Linked DNA regions of Homo sapiens. The protein of the gene in region 2 purifies or fractionates together with the protein of the main gene of each other region. This does not show direct contact. Each region holds a gene or a part of one and is shown on either strand. Other genes may lie near its edges.

Region 1 (2,807 bases), on a different chromosome or scaffold from region 2:
GCAGGTGTGAGCCACCAGTCAGCCAGAAATTTAATGTAGTTTAGAAGGATTACAAAAGTATTTCTACATACCTTTAAATTTTGACTAATTTTGCCTCTGGCAATGGGATCAAAATAAATGCAGCAATTCTTATTTGTAATGCAACAGCATGTCTTAGAACAGTTAGATCTCAAGTAAACTTTACAAATAAAGTACTGGAATTAATTTACATTTAAAAATAAATTAGCCCAGTGGCCTAAAATTAAATCCGAGGCTCCAAATAAAAATTTCAGCAAATTCCCCTATTATCTGTTAACACCGAAAAATATCAGCTGCTATAAATTATTTGTGCATTATTCCTGGGGAGAAAGCAAGCAAGCCGCTGTCATGGCAGTCTCTATTTTCTTTGACCCTAACTTATCCTCTATGATCCTGAATAAATGGTAGGTAGTACCCCTGCACTAAACTTGGGAAGTACTTAAATAAATATAGTCTCTTTAAAAGAACTGATCACAGATGTCTAAAATTAAAACGTTTGATTTATTAATAAACAAAGTATCTCTCTTAAATGGGCCAAGAAACAATTCTATGACAAAAGTGAACCCTGGAATATAGATATTCCCAGAAGACAATTTTCCAGGATACCCAGCCAAACAATTTTCACCTAGTCACAAAAGTCATTTTCATCGAAGCCTACAGTCATTCCTTTTTCTAATTCTATTCTCTCATTTCTTTCTAAACATGATTTTAATAAAGCATATACCTGTCAAAGACTTCTCTTTGCAAAAGACATAGGAACAGCAGTCAGGAAGAGGACTCTGAAGCCCAGTCACTCCACAGATCCAAAGTTTATGGCTGTGTGCCCTTGTAACTTAGCCTCTCTGCATCTGTTTCCTTGTCTGTAGTGGTACTAGGTTGGCGCAAAAGTAATTGCGGGATATTTACCTCATAAGAGTGTTGATGGTTAAATACAAGAGTGAATAACTTAAGACATATAGAACAGTGCCAAGCATGTACTAAATGCTCAAAAGAGTTTGAGCTATTATCATTCCAGCTTTTTCATCAAACCAAATGGTATCCTCCTAAGCAGCCCAGGGATTACAATGACAAACCTAGTCAGAGGTAAATCAAAGGATTAAATATGTTCAGGAATACAGAGATTTGTGAATACAGAGTAAAGATACTATAATCAATCCCTAGTTATTATTTTTCACAATGGTACCTAGTTATTATTATTTTTATAGATAAAGGGGTCTTGCTATGTTGCCCAGGCTGGTCTCAAACTCCTGGGCTCAAGCAATCCTCCTGCCTTGGCCTCCCAAAGTGCTAGGATTACTGGTGTGAGCCACTGTGCCCAGCCCCTAGTTTTTAAAATGATTTCACTTATGTGTATGAACCCAAACATTCTGAAAATACTAAAAATTTCTATCAATATCTGTCTTACTCATTCTTCAGATTATCCTTTAGATTTTCAGTAGTGCCACATAATTTTATAACTAAATTTTATTATAGCGGAATAATTCAAAGAGTTGTAGTTTTGAAATAAATTTTGCTATGATTAGAGAAAATCTATTCAGAAAGTACAATATACATTAATTTATGGCACTTGTCCAAATATTACCAGCATACAAATTATTGTTTAAGGTTGTTTCTTACATATGGGATCTAATATGCAAAGAAAACTGGAATTTGTATTCAAAACAAATAGAAGCAACACTGGCTCCTATATACTAAAAATATAAGACAGATTTTTTTCTTAAACACTCTGGATACAAATACTAACTGTATGGATTGAGAACTTTGAAGTTTTCATAATGTAAGTCACAAAGTATACAAGTAGAGCTCTATAAATATATCCCCTATAATAATCATATGCAAAACCATTCTATCACAAACACTACCAAAACCCTTTGAAAAACATAAACTACAACACATTTTCAAAGAAATTATTAGTTATAACAACTACAAAAGCAATAAATATCAATAAAGTTATTTGGCTGTCAGAAATGAAGGGCAGTATAATGTAAAATTCAAATACTGCAAAGTTGTTTTTTGAAGATGTAGTCTCGAGTTTCTTCTTCTTCTTTTTTTTAAATTTTAGAGACAGGATTTCACCATGTTGCCCAGGCTGGTCTCAATCTCCTGGCCTCAAGCAATCTGCCCGCCTCGACCTCCCAAAGTGCTGGGATTACAGGAGTGAACCACCACGCTTGGCCAAGTTTCTTAATACAAGGTACTAAACACTCTTTCAAAAATAATAAGACTTGTTCCATATAAAGTTGAGCAAGAACTCTAAAAAGAAAAAATTAAGCAACAGATGAAAAGTAGGTATGTGGAAATAATGGTATCAAATATGATTTTATACAAAATGTACCATTCTTCAAATGTGTAAGTCTTAATATGAATATTTTTGGATTGTGAGTGTTGCTCAGCCTAATTTTTAAAGAATTAGTCTCAAACCATTCAAAATCCAGTATTTCTCAAAAGTTCTGATATTACTAATGTGGTCATGGTGCAGGATGCAATTTCATGTCAACTTACCTATACTGTTCTACCCAATAAAAATATAACCTTTGAGCTTAGGAGAGAATGTATCTTTTGAATGTTTGATCTCTATATATATTCTACTTTTTGGAACATCAGAATTTTGTAATATGAACTAATATCCACCAGGAATTGGCCCAAGTTTAAACAGAAGACACAAAAGAGACATAGGTGTCAAACAGCTTAAGTCTGCTCTATGCAATTATACAGTCATAGTTACTTTTTACATGAAAGTGCTTTAAAGTCAAAAATATTTGTGTAAAAGGTATTATTAATAGTACTAA
Region 2 (2,666 bases):
TCGCAGGCATAGGGACGCTCCCCAGAGTGCACACGCCGGTGACTGACCAGGCGAGAGGAGGAGGAGAAGCGCCGCTCGCAGTCCGGGCACGGGTAGGGCTTCTCGCCCGTGTGGATGCGCTGGTGGATGACGAGGGCCGTGCGCTGGCGGAAGCGGCGGTTGCACTCGAGGCAAGTGTAGGGCTTCTCTCCCGTGTGTGTACGCTGGTGGATGGCTAGCAGGGAGGGGTAGGCGAAGCGACGTCCACAGCTAGGGCACTGGTGGGGTTTTTCACCTGTGTGTGTGGTCCGGTGATTGGCCAAGGACCGGCTCCTCCGGAAGCAGCGACCACAGTCAGGGCAGTGATAGGGCTTCTCCCCTGTATGGATGACCTGGTGCTGGGAGAGGTTCTTGCGCTGGGAGAAACGTTTGCCACACTGGTCACAAACATAGGGGCACTCGCCGGAGTGTGCCCGCCGGTGACTGACCAGCAGGGATGGATAGGAAAAGCGGCGCCCACAGTCTGGGCAAGGGTAAGGCTTTTTTAGATTCTGGGCGCACTTGTGGCTCTCCAGGGCCTGATGATCAGGGAAGGTACAGCCGCAGTCAGGGCAGATGGGGCCCCCGGACGTCTGCCTAGGAATCAGTCGGGGTTTGCTGGGCCTCCGGCCTCGCTTCCCCTTTCGGGGTGCCTCCTTAGGCGGGAATACTTCCTTCTCCCCATTCTTCTTTCTGGTTCTGCTTTCTATAGAAATACAGAAGCATTAATTTAACAAATACTGGGCTCCTGCTCTTGTCAATTACATTATAGGTTACAAGACCAATAGACTCACCCCCTGGTCTCAATTCCTAGTGCCACAGACAGCTAAGTGTGACATACTGTCATGCAAATACGGTGTGCATTACAGGAGCTTCTAACCCAGCTTGGAGAAGTCTAGGAAGATTTCTCGGAGATTAAACTAACTTTAAAAATTGAGGCCGGGCACAGTGGATCACGCTTGTAATCGTAAGCACTGGGAGGCCGAGGCGGGCAGATCACAAGGTCAGGAGTTTGAGAGCAGCCTGACCAACATGGTGAAACCCTGTTTCTACTAAAAATACAAAAATTAGCCGGGCGTGGTGGCACGCACCTGTAATCCCAGCTACCCAGAAGGCTGAGGCAGGAGAATCGCCCGGGAGGCAGAGGTTGCAGTGAGCCGAGATTGTGCCACTGCACTCCAACCTGGGCGAGAGAGCGAGATTCCATCTCAAAAAAAAAAAAAAAAGGAATATTTTTGAAGAGGTAAGCTTACATCATTCAAAAGTCAAAATATCAGCCAGGCATGGTTGCTCATGCCTGTAATCCCAGCACTTTGGGAGCCCAAGGCAAGAGATCGCTTGAACCCAGGAGTTCAAGATCAGCCTGGGCAGCATAGTGAGACCCCATCTCTACAAAAAATACAAATATTAGCCTGGCCTGGTGGCACGCGTGCCTGCCTGTAGTCCTAGCTACTTGGAAGGCTGAGGTAGAGGATTACTTGAGCCCAGGAGTTCAAGGCTACTGTGAACCATGATGGCACCACTGTACTCCAGCCTGGGCAACACAGCAAGACCCTATCTCAAAAAACAAACAAGTCAAAATATTAATAAAGGAATACAGAGAAGTCTTGCTGCCACCTTTTTCCAATCTACCTTGTAGAAACCATATTAGTTTTTTCCCATTTTTTTGATGCAATACAAATGTCACCTTCCCTATCTTTCTTTCATAAGAGATTGCATACACATGCTTTACAGCGTATGTTCTCTTCCCCACCTTTCTTTTTTTTTTTCTTTTTTGAGACAGAGTCACGCTCTGTCACCCAGGCTGGAGTGCAATGGTGTGATCTCAGTTCACTGAAATCTCCGCCTCCCGGGTTCAAGTGATTCTCCCTGCCTCAGCCTCCTAAGTAGCTGGGATTACAGGCATGCACCACTATGCCCAGCTAATTTTTTGTATTTTTAGTAGAGTCAGGGTTTCACCATGTTGGCCAGGTTGGTCTCGAACTCCTGACCTCAGGTTATCTGCTCACCTCTATCTCCCAAAGTGACTACAGGCGTGAGCCACCATGCCCAGCTCACCTTTCTTATACAAAAGACAACATATACACACCTTATACACACTTTACATTTTTTCACTTAATATATTCTAAAGATCATTTTATGTCAGCAAATCTTTTTTCTATTTTACAGCTACACAGAATTCCATTGTGGATGGTTTATTTGACTTAGCTGATTCTTTAAAAAATGTGGCTGGGCGTGGTGGCTCATGTCTGTAATCCTAGCACTTTAGGAGGCTGAGGCAGGCGGATCACCTGAGGTCAGGAGTTCAAGACCAGCCTGGCCAACATGGTGAAACCCCGTCTCTACAAAAATATAAAAATTAGCTGGGCACAATAGCAGGTGCCTATAATCCCAGCTACCCAGAGGCTGAGGTGGGAGAATCACTTGATCCTGGGAGGCGGAGGTTGCAGTGAGCCAAGATCACGCCATTGCACTCCAGCCTGCATGACAGAGTGAGACTCCATCTCAAAAAAAAAAAAAAAAAAAAAAAAAAGAATTAAAATTATGCAGTGTTAGAAACGTAAGTCCCAGCCAAGCGCAGTGGCTCATTCCTATAATCCCAGCACTTTGGGAGGCCAAGGTGGGCGGACTGTGAGGTCAGGAGTTCG

The links. The genes of interacting proteins can lie anywhere in the genome.
Region 1: the proteins of ZNF689 (region 2) and SRSF12 purify together in Homo sapiens (affinity purification with mass spectrometry; one large-scale study listed by BioGRID and IntAct). This does not show direct contact.

Annotation. Positions count from the first base shown.
Region 1 is NC_000006.12:89,095,459-89,098,265, forward strand, and holds the end of SRSF12 (serine/arginine-rich splicing factor 12), read right to left. Parts: 3' UTR 501-2,807; downstream 1-500. UniProt on the Homo sapiens protein: Splicing factor that seems to antagonize SR proteins in pre-mRNA splicing regulation.
Region 2 is NC_000016.10:30,604,724-30,607,389, forward strand, and holds part of ZNF689 (zinc finger protein 689), read right to left. Parts: intron 725-2,666; coding exon 1-724. UniProt on the Homo sapiens protein: May be involved in transcriptional regulation.